Regions from separate parts of the Homo sapiens genome. Here regions 1, 2 and 4 are each reported to be linked to region 3. The links are microRNA targets in miRTarBase. Many come from high-throughput screens and were not tested one by one. Region 3 holds a microRNA gene; each other region holds the end of a gene's coding sequence.
What was found. The annotated mature microRNA hsa-miR-6752-3p reads UCCCUGCCCCCAUACUCCCAG and lies in region 3 at 2,302-2,322, shown strand. An mRNA with a match to its seed (bases 2 to 7 or 8) in the 3' UTR can be bound and repressed. Matches are read on the target gene's strand: a 7mer-m8 pairs with bases 2 to 8, a 7mer-A1 pairs with bases 2 to 7 and ends in A, and an 8mer does both.

Region 1 (4,000 bases), not on the chromosome of region 3:
TCACGTCAGCATCCCAAGTAGCTGGGACTGCAGGCTGTACCATCCATCATACCTGAATATATTTTGCACTTTTTTTTTTTGGTAGAGACAGGGTTTCCTATGGTGCCCAGCCTGGTCTCGAACTCTTGGACTCAAGACATCCACCTCTCTCAGCTTCCCAAAGTACTGGGATTATGGGCTTGTGTTAACAAATCTAGATGGTGGCCCAATTCCTATTTAGTTCTATACAACACTTATTTTACAAGAATGCACAAGCATAACCAAGAATAAGTTAATTATTGTGCTCTATTACAGCTTAGAAAGAAAATAAGTACTAGTGACTTGAATTGTATACAAATGTTTTTTCTTTCCCCTTAATGTTTCAAAAATTTTAAACATAGAACTATAATGGTTATGTAATTATTCTCTTTAAAAATGTTCTATTCATGAAGATTTTTCTCAGTGATAATTTTTATCATAATTAAAAACAAAAGCACATGATTAATTTTTTTTTTCACTTAGGTGTTACTTGTAAAGTTATCACCATGTTCTTCAATGGATTTGCAATCTTTTTGTATAAACCACCTCCATCAGCCACAGATGTGTCATTTCATAAAGAGAATGCAGTTGTGACTAATGTTTTAGCAGAACAGGATCTCAACAAAATAGTAAAAGAAGGGTGAAATGGGAAAAGAGAAGACTGTTTTACACCTGGAAAATTTACCTCGATTTTTAAGAACACACATTGCCATGGCAGGATTATCTATCCAATATGGACAATCATATTTACAAAATTGATGTTTTTATAATCAAATGTATTTTTTTACTTATGTAGTTTTTGTTTTATGCAAGAAACAGACCTGTGCCTTCAAAGCCCACGTAAAGCCTCAAAACACAGCACACACACACACGAGCACACACACACACACACACACGAACACACACACACACACACACACGCACACATACACACTTATTTCCTATTCCCATTGTCTAGGTATGAAATCCTCAAGCAATAACAAGAAAAAAGGCCCACAATTAGAAAAATTTACATTTAAAAAAAATGTTGTTTCTATCCCCATTACAACTTGTTTAATTTTAATTTTCATTGTCAATATTTTGAGCTTAGAACATTTATGGTATAAAAATTTAAACTAATCAAAGTTGTGTGATGATTTCCGGGAATTATTATTGAAAGCCTATGAATTTAAAACCAGGTTTACCATGTAATTTGTTTTTAAATTTATGTATACTAGCCTGGCCTTTCTCCAAGCAAATTATTGAACTATTAGAATATGTTAGTTATCATCCTTGTGTCTTAGTATATAGTGAATACAGAAACATCAGCATTGTATACACATATTTTCACTTTAACTCAAGAATTCCAGGAGGTAATTTGTTGATATTACAATTTTTAACACATTTATGATTCTGTGATAATATTATTCAATTGCATATATTTCAGAGGAAAGTACCAGTCAGTAAAGAAAAATGCCAACTAAACATGAAACTATTGATCAATACTTATATACCTTTAATTTTTCCTATTTGAAAAGCCAACCACTTAACACATTACTCATAGCACCTAAGACAGTGCCTTGCATAGTGTAGTCATCTATTATTATTGTTTAATTAGAATATTAAACCCTACCCTTTAACTCAGCAGTCCCCAACCTTTTTTGCATCAGGGACCATTTTTGTGGAAGACAATTTTTCCATGGGGGAAGAAGGTATGGTTTTGAGATGAAACTGCTCCACCTCAGACCATCAGGCATTAGTTAGATTCTCATAAGGAGAGTGCAACCTAGATCCCTTGCATGTGCAGTTCCCAATGGAGTGTGCACTCCTATGAGAATCTAATGCCACTACTGATCTAACAAGAGGTGGAGCTCAGGCAGTAATGCTCACTCACCTGCCTCTCAGCTCACCAACTGTGTGGCCCGATTCCTAACAGGCCACACACAGCCCAGGGCTGGGGACCCCTGCTTTAACTGATGCATTGATTTGATAAAGTATTTTACAAGCCTGATAATGTTATAACCCTGTTTATTCAGGTCAGATTTATGCCAACTTTGCTGAGAATATGGAGGGTATAGATGAGTGAACATCAACAAACATAACTTCTACCATGGTTAAGAATTTTACTTAGGAAAAGTATTGAAGTTCAAATCCAGATAGTATTACATTTGAAATTGTTATAAGGGTTATTAATTTAATAAAATTCATCATCAGGTTTCCCCTATAAGCTTTCTCCTAGGTTAATTTTCCACAAGCATTGTTTTATATACACTGTAATCAGGATAACACAAGCTTAGTGTTAGATCTTGTAGGAAACCAAGATTAGAAACATTAGAAATTTGCAGAATTTAAGAAATTATGTTTTGTGGTAATCTATGGCCAACGATGTTAGAACCTAGCGCAATTGTAAAGTGAAATTCAAGGAGAAGGAATGAGGAGTTAGGGAAGCAGCATACTTGAATATTAGAGAAGGAGAGGAGCTGTGGGTCAGGAATCAGAGAGACCTGCTAAAACCAGACAGATATAAACACCAAAGACGGAAGCCAAATAGGTAGCCAAAAATCCAGATATTTGAGAAGCAGGAAATTTATAGCAACCAAAGAAATAGGGCAAGAGAGGCAGGTGAACACACATGATACCTCAATTGACAATCTTCCTCCCACCAAGCCAGACACGTTGTAAATGCTGCTTCCTATTGGAGCCCAGAAAAAAGGAAAAGGAAAGTTTAGGCTTTCTTTGTCCTTTGTGTGGAAGCAGGGAATTGGATTGAAGACTTTCATAGTTGTAACATAAAGGCAAATCCTGAGGAACTCACTGATGGAGATGTGAAATGGCAGTAAGGAAGAAAACAGAATAACTGAACAAATATATTAGTCTAGGGCCACTTAATTTAGAGGAAGAAAAAAAATCAACCCATCCATAGAAATAGTTTGATAAACAGGTCACTAAATCATTGGCGTTTATAAAGATTCTTAGCTATCAAGGGCTGCATTGTATTTTATATACTCAGTTTTATAAGGTGATACTTTTTAAATAAGCGCTTTAATGAAAATGGTTAGACTGAAAATAATTTTGGTCCTTAAAAGGAGTCAGGAGCTTTTATATATAAGGTACATATTTTAAAAGAATACCTCCTTTATAACAGGGTTTTACAGACACTACCATAATTTATAATCATTATTTTTTACTTTTGGGTTCACCTAGATCATATGAGTTGATGTGATACTTCTAGAACAAAATTATTCATAGTGCGTTTTTTGTAATTTATGATTGTTAAGTAAGCTTGACTTATAAATTGACATTGTAATTGTGTACATAATTGGATATATGTGTTAAAATTTAACATTTAGATTTACTTAATTGTAGAAAATACAAATGTAAAACTTACACATGGAAAGAACTGTATGCAGTTGACTTTACTATGTAAATTGGAGGGAAACAAAGTTTTAGATCCATTTTCTTTCAAAATTTTCTTTATTGTAAAGTATGCAAAATATATATTCATACCATTTATTAAATCAGAATGTTTATACAAAATTGTCGTGTTTGAGCTTATTAAATGACACAGGTTTGAAACTTGCCTTATCTCTGTGAACATAAGCATATTTTATGGATGGGAAAGGGAAATTAGTATGCTTTTGAACTTGGTGAATGTATTAATAATTTAATCCAGTGATTTCTTGTATCTCAACAGATGTTTTTAATTCAATACAAACCACATGTATTATGAAATATATATTAGGGAAATTCTCTTACACAAGTTTCTACATATGACAGATTAATATATAAGATTTATATAAGTAGGATACATTTTACAGATGGTTTATTTGTAAACTATCTGATAAAAAAGTGTGGGATGTGTTTAATTTATCTCAGTTTATTGTAATAGTAAAATATTTTAAGGAAATAATATTAGATGTTAATTTGAAATGTAATGTTCTTTTCCCCCAGGCTCCTTCAGCTTTTTTTTCAGTAAAGTCCAATAAACACTAACTTTTACAGC
Region 2 (4,000 bases), not on the chromosome of region 3:
TGGCTGCCGAGCCCACCGCCCCACTCAGCCACTCCGCCTCCTCAGACCCCGCTGACCGCCTCTCGCCCTTCCTGGCCGCTCGCCACTTCAACCTGCCCTCCAAGACCGAGTCCATGTTCATGGCGGGGGGCAGCGACTGCCTCATCGTCGGTGAGCGCCAGCAGACGGGGCTCTGGGATGAGGGTGTGGGGTCCGGGCAGCTGAAGCTGCTGCACCCAGCCCTCCCTGACCGGGGTGGCAGAGAAGAGGCCCTGGGTGTCAGGGTGGACCAGGCATGATGGGTGGGAGGGGGCTGGAAGGGAGAGACCAGCCTGGACAGCTGGTCCTGGGGGCTATGGAGGGTCAACGGTCTGTGCGGTTTCAGAGAGGCCCGTGCAGGGCAGGACAGCTGGGACAGCAGGTGAGGTGCCTGGGTCAGTGCTGATAGGGCAGTCAGGCCGCCACTGACCTGAGCATCCTGCAGGGGGAGGAGGCGGCCAGGCGCTCTACATCGATGGGGACCTGAACCGGGGCCGCACAAGCCACTGCGACACCTTCAACAACCAGCCCCTCTGCTCCGAGAACTTCCTCATTGCTGCCGTGGAGGCCTGGGGCTTCCAGGACCCTGACACCCAGTGACGGCCTGTGCCACGGTGACTGAGCCGTGGTGGGGCGGTGGGCCGAGGCTGGGCTGCCGCCTCGGGCAGCAGAGAGCAGATGAAACCCCCATGTGGTAGGCAGGGTTGGGGGACGGCAGGACCCCATGGCCAAGCCTGGCGTTGCCTGGACCTGCTGCTGCCTCTACCTGGGGTTTGGGCTGGGCTTCCCCAGTCCACCTGCATCTGGGTCAGAGCTGGAGGGCCTGCTGTGCCCCCAGCCCCACCCAGAGCTGGCATAGGAAGTACCTTCCTCCTCCGTGGAGGCTTCCATAGCCCAAGGCCTTGGGAGTGTCTGGGTCTTGCTGCCCCTGAGCCTCTCTAGGCAGCCTGAGCCCCTGGGGTGGGAGTACAACGGCAGTGGGAACGTGCAGCTAAGGGTGGGCCTGTGGTGCCCCCTGCTGGTGCCGCATAGCATCGCGCCCTCCTGAGCAGGGCCCTGCAGCCTGGCTGGCTGGCGACTGAATCCCAGCGTAGATCCCGAGAACAGACTGGCACCCTTGGGCCTGCCCCCTGGCGGACCCCACCCCCTGTCCTGGGCGTTTGCCCCAGTTCCCTCCCCAGGCCTCCTGGGCCACCTCTCACATTAACCCTTCTTGGCTGCCTCTGAGGCTCCCCTGGGCTGCGTTTGGGAGCTGCTGGGTGGGAGGAGGAGGGTGGGATTTGTGCTGGGCTCCACCCCCAGGGAGGGTGGGAGCTGGAGGGGGATGTCACATGTCCTTGTGTTTCTGCAGAGCCTGAAGCTTTTGCTGGGCCTCCCTGCGTGTTCCCATCTGAAGAGGTAGCCCCGGGAGAGGCCCTCAGGGACCGACCCAGACCAGCAAGCTCCATTTCCAGGGGTCTGCCCAGAGAAGCCTGGACCCAGGGGGCTTCTCAGCTCCCCTCCCTTCCAGCCCAGGCCTCCTTGAGCTCCTGTAGCCTCTGCAGCTGCCCATTTCACCTCTTTGTCATTGCAATGACCTGGGGCCCAGGGTCACGCCCAAGCCCCTCTTTGTGGCATGCTCATCTCAGTGCAGCCCCAACTGCTTCTCTGCACCAGGCCCCGTGCCCTCCCCTGGCCCTGGCCACACAGCACCTCCTTGGCCACCTTGCATGGATGCATGTCCTCCCTCTGTCCCTCTTGTGGTGCTGTGGCTGGCCACGTGTCAGGGTTTTCTGTGAGCCTCTCACCTTACAGCCTTTGGGCCCCTGGGCCCCTGCCCTGCCTGAGCCCTGCGCTGGCCAGACGCAGGTAGGTGCCAGGGGAGGCCTTGCCTCTGGGCACTATAGGGGGCAGCCCCCTGCCTTGTGACCTCCCTCCATGCCCCATGACCTCCTTCAACTCGTCTTGAGGGTCTGGTCACCACGGAGGGGAGAAGGGAGACACAGAGGCCCAAGTGGCTGTTCTGGGACCATGGAAGCCTGGGTCACAGAGGCAGGTACCAGCAGTCCTGCCCCCACCCCCGTCCCTGCTGGCCTCCAGCCAGTGCCACTTGGAGTCCCCTGCACCGTGCCACTTTCCATCCCCACACCATTGCCTGCTCCTCCCATGGGGCTTTAGCCTCCCCTGACCATCTGCTCATGTAGCCTCTGACTGGGCGCACAGTGGTGCAGGAGGAAGGACCGGGAACCCTGTGTGGCTTTGGGCAAGCTGACAAACCCGTCTGGAACTCAGTTTCCCCAGCTGTGAAATGGGGCCAGTCCCCATGCCCTGCTGTCCTCCTCACAGGACTGTTGAGAGGCTCGCAGGGGGATGGGGTGAATCCCTCTCACGGGGAGAGGTATGGGAGGGAAGTCGCCACTCATCTCAGCCCACCGCAGCCCTCCAGGCCCCCGCCTGAGCCCCTGAGGCCCTCATCTGTACCGCCAGCTTTGGTGTTCATTAAACATGGTCTTGCTGCATCAACTCCAGGGCTCCAAGCTGAGTCTGATCTCTTCAGCCAGAGGGGCCTCCGGGGGCTTCCTGGGCCTACAGCCAAGCAGGTGTGGGAGGCTGCCCGCTGTAGTGCTCACCCACATTCTATGACTGGAATGCTGCAAGCCTCTTCCAGAGGGAGCCCTCCAGGAGCAGGGAAGTCATATCCGTGGACCATTTGTAGGTTTCCCTCTGCAAACTTCCTGAACTGGGTGGTGATTTTTCTGGCGAGTTAAGTCCAGCAGGTTCTGCGTGGCTGCCCCCAGGGGGCCCCACCCGGGCCTTCCAGTGATCTGGACCAGGAAGACGGATTGCTGCTGGGTCATGATTTCCACATCATGAGCGAAGTTCTTTGTTTTTTGTGTGCATGCAAAATATTGTTTCTTTAAATTTAATATCTTTTCCTAACTTTTCTACTAACCTAGAAGGTATGTGTGATTATTATCTTTTTTATTCTTATCACTGTACTTGTTAGTATCTGATATTAGGTATTCCCAAATAGAACATAATTTATTTTGTTAATGTTCTCTATTTCTTCTTGATTATTTATTAGCTTTGGATGTTAAAAATTAGCCAAAAGTGGCTGCTCTGCCTATGAAGTAGCCATTCTTTGTTTAAAAAAAAAAAAAGCCAACATTTGTTGAAACTGCATAATAAATTATCATTTGTTTTTAGAAACATTCAAAGAATTATTTTTTGATTTTTTTTTTTTTTGGGACAGAGTCACCCAGGCTGGAGTGCAGTGGCATGATCTTGGCTCACTGCAACCTCCGCCTCCTGGGTTCAAGCGATTCTCCTGCCTCAGCCTCCTGAGTAGCTGGGATTACAGGCATACGCCACCACGCCCAGCTAAATTTTTTTTGTATTTTTAGTAGAGGCAGGGTTTCACTGTGTTGGTCAGGCTGGTCTTGAACTCCTGACCTCGTGATCCACCCCCCCCTCAGCCTCCCAAAGTGCTGGGATTACAGGCGTGAGCCACCGCGCCTAGCCTATTTTTTAATTTTTTTGAATAGACCACTTTGTGCTGAATAAATGTTTAACATTTATTTTTAAAACAACAATTGCACCTAATTTAAAATAGTTTATTAAATGAATTCATTAAAGCAGATTATATGCCTTTGGGGCTTCAGAAAATCAGTTTAAGCAAAAGAACTTATGAGAGTAAGTCATTTGTACTTGAATTTTTTCAGAGTTTTAATGAACTAAAGTATTTTAATTTTTCTATTTTTGTAAGCCGCATACTTCATTTTTTGAGTTTTTCAGTGGAATTTGTTTTAAAACGTTTTGAAGATTTCAGAGGCCTTCATATTTCTCTTATCCACTTTCTGAACCCATAAAGCCTTTGCAGTCTCCTTGAGTAGTTTATATTTAGTAATTTAGTTGTGTACCTTTTTATTTTGAAGTAATTTTTGATTTGCAGAAGAGTTGCAGAGACGGTACAGGGTTTCCATGTACCCTCACCTTCCCCCAA
Region 3 (4,202 bases):
CATAGCTTTTTGGGGGCTGGCCCCTGCCGTCTCACCCTCTTACTCAACCTCCCTGCTTTTCCTTTCCATTCCCCTTCTTAGCCAAGATCTTCCCTCTTCCTTCAAAGCTTATTCCTGGGTCACCACCTCTAGGAAGCCCTCCCTGACTGCTAGTGGTTGGCTCAACTCCCATGTTTGGGTCCTCCAACCCTCATGCCCTGCATGGCCAGGATCTGCTCTTCTGCCTTGTCCTAGGCTATTGCAGAGCAGGGATCTGGCCTGTTTACTTCTAGCTTTGGGATGCCCAGCGCGAGCCAGTCCAGAGCCAAGACTCAGGAAATGCCCGCTGATGGCAGCCCGGCAGTCAGCCCCTGTCCAGACAACAGGGCAGTGGGAGGAGTGGGGAGGACCCGGGTAGGAGGAATCTGGTTATCTGGTTCCCACCAGCCTAGCAGCTTTGCCAAGCAAGAGATTAGAGGCTAGGTCCCCTATGCCTGTCTCCCTGTGGGGTTTTTTTTTTTTTGACTAAGTCTCACTCTGTTGCCCAGGCTGGAGTGCAGTGGCGTGATCTTGGCTCACTGCAACCACCATCTCCTGGGTTCAGCTGATTCTCTGCCTTAGCTGCCTGAGTAGCTGGGATTACAGGCACCTGCCATCGTGCCCGGCTCATTTTTGTATTTTAGCAGAGACGCGGTTTCACCATGTTGGTCAGGCTGGTCTTGAACTCCTGACCTCAGGTGATCCGCCCGCCTTGGCCTCCCGAAGTGCTAGGATTACAGGCGTGAGCCACCACATCCGGCCTCCCTGAGGGTTTTGAAGTGGCTGGCCTGGGCCCAGCTCTGAGGTAGGCCCTCAGTGGGGTGTGGGTGGGGCAGAAGGAGGAGCTGCTGGGAACAGAATGTGGGGGGCCCCAGTTCTTTGCATAGTCCAGCAAAGGGCCTTATCCTCTGGAGGGAGAGGAGGTAAGAATTCTACTGGGCCTGTAAGGACCAGGGAGACAGGGGTTGATGGTAGGCATGTGTCTGTGGTGGGGGTGAGGAGGGGGTTAGGTGCTCTGTTTGGTGGCCAGAGAATGTGGCAGAAGCTGGGGCTTCACCAGGAGAGAGGGCTGAGCGACTGGAGGAGTCCTGAATTAAAAGCCTCCTGTGCTTAAACGGAGTAGGGTCCCAGTTGTCACTCTCTGGGCCTTGGTGTTTGTTCTCAGATGGTGGTGGGGAAGGGGGCTGGGCCTTGTGGACCCGGTGACCAGCCAGCCCACGGTGACAGAGCCCCCGGCGCCCTTGCCTTCCCGCAGCATGTGGTCCTGTACCCGCTGGTGGCCAAGAGTCTCCGCAACATCGCGGTGGGCAAGGACCCCCTGGAGGGCCAGCGGCACTGCTGCGGTGTTGCACAGATGCGTGAACACAGCTCCCTGGGCCATGCTGACCTGGACGCCCTGCAGCAGAACCCCCAGCCCCTCATCTTCCACATGGAGATGCTGAAGGTGAGGGGCCACCGCGCCTGGTCTCACCAGGCCCCCACTGCCCAGCCTCAGGGCGGCGCTGGCCTGTCCACCCAGGGGTGGTGGGATCCGCAGGTGGACTGCTGGGGGAGCGGACAGAGACAAGAAAACCTGTGCAGGACCCTTGGCAGTACCCTGGGTCTCCTTTCCTCCTCCTTCACATCTCAAATGTCACCTCCTCCAGGAAACCGGCCCTGCCCACCCGGTCTCCTCATTCTCTGTCTCGCAGCAGCTCATTTCCTTTATAGCCTCTGCCGCACCTTGAAGTCCCTTGGAATTCATGGATTTCCTTGTCCATTTAGGGAACCTGCCATGCAGCATGATCTCTGCGAGGGCAGGGCTTTTCACCGTCTTGTTCACTGTTCTATTCTTAGCACTTGGCACAGTGCTGGGCACACAGGAGATGTGACATCGATGTTTGATGCTTTTTGAGTGACAAGTAGCTCTGCTGCTGGTGTGTGATGTCTGGGGGCCCAGCCAGCCCAGATGTGGGTCAGGTCTGCTGCTGACGGACGCAGCTGTGGTGTCCCCGAGCCCCGCTGTGATATGCCCCATGCCCTGCAGGTGGAGAGCCCTGGCACGTACCAGCAGGACCCATGGGCCATGACAGACGAAGAGAAGGCAAAGGCAGTGCCACTTATCCACCAGGAGGGCAACCGGTTGTACCGCGAGGGGCATGTGAAGGAGGCTGCTGCCAAGTACTACGATGCCATTGCCTGCCTCAAGAACCTGCAGATGAAGGTACTGCCTGGAGGCTGAGGGGGAGGATGGATGGAGGGGGGTGTGGAGCCAGGGGGCCCAGGTCTACAGCTTCTCCCCGCTCCCTGCCCCCATACTCCCAGGAACAGCCTGGGTCCCCTGAATGGATCCAGCTGGACCAGCAGATCACGCCGCTGCTGCTCAACTACTGCCAGTGCAAGCTGGTGGTCGAGGAGTACTACGAGGTGCTGGACCACTGCTCTTCCATCCTCAACAAGTACGACGGTGAGCACCGGGCCCTGGGCTGCCGGGGGCTGCGAGTGGTCAGAGAGTGGCCTTTCTCCTGTCACTGCTGGGGTCAAGACCTAGCCTTTCACAACCCCCATTCTGAGCTCCCACGGGGGCCTGACTAAATGCCTCTACTCGGCAGGGCTGTGGGCCCCATTGTGCCAATGAAGCATGAATGGTGTATTGGGGGTGGGGTGGCATCCTCAGGTCAGGGAGGGCTCTCTCTCCCCTGTGGGCCCATGGTGCCAGGAGACATGAGGGCAGGCAGCTGGCCAGGATCCCCCCTCATGCCCTTGCATGCCCACTGCCCACTGGCCTCCCCTGCAGACAACGTCAAGGCCTACTTCAAGCGGGGCAAGGCCCACGCGGCCGTGTGGAATGCCCAGGAGGCCCAGGCTGACTTTGCCAAAGTGCTGGAGCTGGACCCAGCCCTGGCGCCTGTGGTGAGCCGAGAGCTGCGGGCCCTGGAGGCACGGATCCGGCAGAAGGACGAAGAGGACAAAGCCCGGTTCCGGGGGATCTTCTCCCATTGACAGGAGCACTTGGCCCTGCCTTACCTGCCAAGCCCACTGCTGCAGCTGCCAGCCCCCCTGCCCGTGCTGCGTCATGCTTCTGTGTATATAAAGGCCTTTATTTATCTCTCTCTGAGTCTGCTGAGCTGCTCCACTGGGAGAGCCGGGTCATCACCTGGCATTCCTGGTACTTGGGTGGCTGTTGGGAGGCAAAGAATCAGGGTTCAAATCCTAGCCCCTCCACCCACCAGCTCTGAGGCTCTGGTGTCCCTGTTAGAGAAATTACGATGAGCTCTTTCACCAAGGAAGTGTCTCTCGCTGGCCAGGGCTGGGGCGCCCCAGGAGCCCACAGTCTTAAGGGGGAGATGAAGTGGGTACAAGCTAGGTAGCTGGGCACCTGAGGGAGGTAGTCTCCTGGTGCTGCCCTCCCACTCCAGCCTCGGATCCCATGGTCTCCTGGCCTCGGTGTCTGGGGGCAGGGTTTCCATGAGAAGCTACGCTGGGGCTGAGGTGAGCCGGGTTGGGCTGGGGTGGGCTGACTGTCCAGAAAGAGGAGAGGGCCGAGCGCTTCGTGAGACCTTTTGAGGCCCAGGCCCCCATCCTGACCTGCCTGTGACATGGATGGCCCTGGGCGTGGGTTTCGTGCGACCTTTTGAGGCCCAGGCCCCCATCCTGACCCTGCCTGTGAGCTGGATGGCCCTGGGTGTGTGTTGGCCTCTCTGTGCACATCAGTGTCCCCTGTTGAACTGGAAACTGGGCTGGCTGCCCTGTGATGCCAGGCATGGGGTGAGTGGGTGGGGTGCAGGTGGCGTTTATTTTCATGGATTTATACACACTGGAAAAGCCTCTGCGCCCATGCCCACGCCCTCCTCCCTCCCCCCGGCGCTGGGTCCCCTCATATGAAAGGGAAGTAACACCGAGGAGCACACGGAGATATAGGGTGTGGGGCTGGGGGGGCCAGCGCTGGGGCCAAAAGTCTGGGTCCCCAGCCTCCCACACGCAGCCCCTCGGGCCCCTTGGGTGTGTCAATAAATAACCCAGGTCCAGGCTGGTGTGGGCCTCACTCCTCGCTGTCCAGCTTCAGGCTGATGCTCCGTGCTTTGCCCCGTGCCAGGGTGGTGGGTGGTGTTCCCGGGCCCTCACGCTCCGCCTGGCTGGGGCCCCTCGAGCGAAGCAGCTGGCTCTGTTTGCGCAGGAAGTCCACGGGGGCAGCCACACCATAG
Region 4 (4,000 bases), not on the chromosome of region 3:
TTTGGGTTGAGGGTCCTTCCTCCTAACTTGGTGAATCTGAATTTCCATCAGTCACTTACTGAGGATCAGAAGTTAATAGATGAGGGATTGGAAGTTAATCTGGACAGCTACTCCAAGCCTCACCACCCAAAGTGGAAAAAGAAGGTGGCGTCAGCCTTGGGAATAGGAATTGCCATTGGAGTGGTTGGTGGCGTGTTGGTGAGGATTGTCCTCTGTGCGCTAAGGGGGGGCCTGCAGCAGTGACAGCTTCAAGAACTTAACAGCCTTGCTCCTGAAGAACTGGCTGCCCAGGAAGCCAAGCTAGCTTTTTAGGGGAGTGTTCCAGCTGCTGGTAGTGGATCAGCTTAGAGGGAACACTCCCACAGCCAAAAGAATGAGTGGGAGAAATGGAGGGGACAATCTCCTGGGAGCTATGCGCAGTAACCTAACTTCCTTATGTCCCATGGATCTCTTCCTGATCTTCCCTGCCCATTGGGTACCCAGGAAACTGCAAGCATTGCCTGTGTTCCTGGGAAGAGTTCTAAGAAGCTTGCATTCATTTTCTACCCTTTATGACTTGGATGCCTCCCCACCTCCATTTCCCCTCTTCTGAGCTGTGTATTCATGTAGAGGGATGTATTCAGCCTTTTTAGTGAACATTTTTTTTCAATAAAAGTAATTCACAGTAGCTGTATGGAGACCTTTTTCTGCTCTTCAGTTTCTTGTATTTATTTAAATTGTCCCATAATCAGTCTGGCTTCATTTTCCTCAGGTTTCTTAGAATAGACATTAAACCAATTGTCTGCTTTTGGGGGCAGGGGGTGCAGTGCATAAGCCTATGGCAGGGGTTGTTAGTAATGACATCCAACTCAGGTGTGTAACAGTCACTAAATATTAACAAATTGCCTGTTCTGCCCAGGTAAATCCCCTGTTTGGTATTAAATTGAATTTCTTGGCAAAACACTAGATCCTTCACCTGGTAGGTTTCCTCTTACCATTCAGACAGCACCTTGGCTTGCCTCCACTCCAGTCCTTTTAGCTCTTTCAGTGCCCTGAAGCTTCTATTCCTGGGAGGGTCAAGTATTGGTTTCTTACAGCAGCCAAGGCCCCCAAAGGAGGATTAGTACTTTGATTCCTCCATAGGAAATCCAGTCTTAAGACTCCGAGGCCATTCGGACCGTGTCTGAGATAATTGGCTTGTGGAACCATCAGGGAAAGACTCTTGGCCACCAGCTGAGCTAATTCTACTGAGAGAATTACAACATTTCTTCCTCTCACTTTTCTCTGACTACAGGAGGTAGCAGAAACCAAAGACCAGCGATTCTCTAGATGTGTGTTAGAATCATCTGGATGACCTTGTGAAAAATAAAGGTTCTTGAGCTCTAATCCTGACAATGCTAATTCAGTTTAAATTATGGTCAAAGGATCTCTATTATTTATTTTACTTTTAACTTGTAAAAATTTCAAACCCATAGAAAAGCTGAAAGAAATGTTTGGTGACCATGCATAGAACCTTTACCAAAATTCACCAGGAATTAACATTTTGTCACAATTATCTTTCTCAATATAGATTGATTTTGTTAAACCATTTGAAAGCTAGTCACAGACATTGCAACTCTTAACTCTTAAACCATGTATGCATCTCCTAATAAGGATGTTCTCTGTAACCACAATATCTTTATCACACTAAGAAAATTAACAATTTCTGGCCAGGCGCGGTGGCTCACGCCTGTAATCCCAGCACTTTGGGAGGACGAGGCGGGCAGATCACGAAGTCAGGAGATCGAGACCATCCCGGCTAACACGGTGAAACCCCGTCTCTACTGAAAGTACCAAAAATCAGCCTGGTGTGGTAGCGGGCGCCTGTAGTCCCAGCTACTCGGGAGGCTGAGGCAGGAGAATAGTGTGAACCCAGGAGGCGGAGCTTGCAGTGAGCTGAGATTGCGCCACTGCACTCCAGCCTGGGCGACAGTGCAAGACTCTGTCTCAAAAACAACAACAAAAAATTAACAATTTCTTTCTTTTCTTTTTTTTTTTTGAGACGGAGTTTTGTTCTTGTAGCCCAGGCTGGAGTGCAATGGTGTGATCTCAGCTCACTGTAACCTCTGCCTCCTAGGTTCAAGTGATTTTCCTGCCTCAGCCTCCTGAGTAGCTGGGATTACAGGTGCCTGCCACCATGCCTGGCTAATTTTTTTGTATTTTTAGTAGAGACGGGGTTTCGCCATGTTGGCCAGCCTGGTCAAACTCCTGACCTCAGATGATCCACCTGCCTCGGCCTCCCAAAGTGCTGGGATTACAGGTGTGAACCACTGGACCTGGCCAAAATTTAACAATTTCTTAATCTTATATAGTTTATACAAGTTGAGCATCCCAAGTATGAAAACCTGAAATCTGTAATGCTCCAAAACTTGAAACTTTTTGAGTACCAACATGGTGCTCAAAGGAAATGCTTATTGGAAGAGCTTAGATTTCGGATTTCTTGGATTTGGGATGCTTAACCTATAAGTATAATGCAAAGATGCCAAAATCTGAAAAAGTCTGAAATCTGGAACATGTCTGGTCCCAAACATTTTGGATAAGGGATACTCAGCCTGTATTCACTTCTCAATATCCAAAATCTTAACAGCTTTTTAATTTCATTTTTGATCCAGGATCAAATAGAAGTTCATGTGTTATGTTTCTCTTAAGTATCTTCTTTTACAACAGACCTCCTGCATTCCTTTGTCTTTCATGACATTGATTTCGTTGAATAATTTACTCCAGTTGTCTTAGATAAGATTCCATAATTTGTATTTGCCATTTCCTCATGAGTAGATTCATGAGGAATGAATCTTAAACATTTTTGACAAGAGCCCTATGTAGATATGTACTTAACTGCACCACATTACAAGGCTCATGTTTTTGTTTATGTTTTTGTTTTTTGAGATGGAGTCTTACTGTATCATCCAGACTAGAGTGCAGTGGTGCAATCTCGGCTCACTGTAACCTCTGCCTCCCGGGTTCAAGTGATTCTGATGCCTCAGCCTCCTGAGTAGCTGGGACTATAGGCATGTGCCACCACGCCTATAGATGGGGTTTCACCATGTTGGCCAGGCTGGTCTCAAACTCTTGACCTCAGGTGATCCGCCCACCTCGGCCTGTCAAAATGTTGGGATTACAAGCGTGAGCCACCGCGCCCAGCCAAGGTTGACCCACTATTGATAATAAGCTTGATCATTTGGTTAAGGTGGTGGATGGCCAGATCTCACCACCAATGTGTGTGTGTGTGTGTGTGTGTGTGTGTGTGTGTGTATTTTCCCCTTTGTAATTCATAGTCTGTGGGGTAATACTTTATGATTATATGGCTCTCCAAAAACTCTTCACATATTTTGGCATCCATTGTTTTTGCCTTGTTGAACATTACATGTTGGGGACTGCAAACTGGCAATTCTTTATGTTCATCTTACCTATATTAGCCTGCATTTCTCTGTAAAGAAGAGCTTACTCTTTTTACCCTCTTTATTTTTGAGGTCTCAATAGATTCTTCTTATTCAGTGAGCTATATATAATCCATTATCATTTTATCTTTTTTTTAACTTTTTAGGTTTAGGGGTACATGTGCAGGATTGTTGCATAGGTAAATTGCATGTCATGGGGGTTTGGTGTACAAATGATCATTATCTTGATGTTCAAATTGTCCCCAATTTTGGCCAGTAGGAGTCCCCTCAGGCAAGCTCTTTTGCCCTTTTGCTGTGGTTTTATTTGACATTGAGCATTTTCTTGCTTCTAGTACAACACGGTATCTCAGATTCACATTTGGACTCTCCTTGCCCCAAACCTGAATCTGGTCTTTCCCCAAGGAACCCTGGTTCCTCTTAGTGTGGGGAGTAGCATTGAGAAACCAAGGTTTGCATGTTGGGTGTGCTCATTGCTACTGGGGAGTCATTGCTCCTAGGCTGTCTCAGTGTCCTAGATGTATATCATGAGTTCAGAGCATCTTTGTTGTTTAAGGTTGTTAGGTGGTTCTGATATATGGCTAAGG

Region 1: the mRNA of SLCO4C1 is a reported target of hsa-miR-6752-3p. Seed matches in the 3' UTR shown: 7mer-A1 at 2,751-2,757.
Region 2: miRTarBase lists TBC1D24 as a target of hsa-miR-6752-3p. Seed matches in the 3' UTR shown: 7mer-m8 at 716-722, 7mer-A1 at 2,682-2,688 and 7mer-m8 at 3,406-3,412.
Region 4: miRTarBase lists TMEM81 as a target of hsa-miR-6752-3p. The part of its 3' UTR that is shown has no 7-base or 8-base seed match.

What each region holds. Positions count from the first base shown.
Region 1 is chr5:102,233,520-102,237,519 of GRCh38, reverse strand. SLCO4C1 (solute carrier organic anion transporter family member 4C1) reads left to right here. Exons shown (of 13, transcript NM_180991.5): 13 at 502-3,534. The coding sequence ends at 662. Among named protein-coding and RNA genes, the nearest start is that of SLCO4C1, 61 kb to the left of the region's middle.
Region 2 is chr16:2,500,341-2,504,340 of GRCh38, forward strand. TBC1D24 (TBC1 domain family member 24) reads left to right here. Exons shown (of 8, transcript NM_001199107.2): 7 at 1-150; 8 at 464-4,000. The coding sequence ends at 618. Among named protein-coding and RNA genes, the nearest start is that of ATP6V0C, 12 kb to the right of the region's middle. RefSeq lists an enhancer at 1-571.
Region 3 is chr11:67,487,994-67,492,195 of GRCh38, forward strand. It overlaps MIR6752 (microRNA 6752), which reads left to right and starts at 2,252; the gene lies at 2,252-2,322. It overlaps AIP (AHR interacting HSP90 co-chaperone), which reads left to right. Exons shown (of 6, transcript NM_003977.4): 3 at 1,274-1,462; 4 at 2,045-2,221; 5 at 2,323-2,464; 6 at 2,795-3,110. The coding sequence ends at 3,000. It overlaps PITPNM1 (phosphatidylinositol transfer protein membrane associated 1), which reads right to left. Exons shown (of 24, transcript NM_004910.3): 24 at 3,775-4,202. The coding sequence ends at 4,040.
Region 4 is chr1:205,079,796-205,083,795 of GRCh38, reverse strand. It overlaps TMEM81 (transmembrane protein 81), which reads left to right. Exons shown (of 1, transcript NM_203376.2): 1 at 1-667. The coding sequence ends at 243. Among named protein-coding and RNA genes, the nearest start is that of TMEM81, 2.7 kb to the left of the region's middle.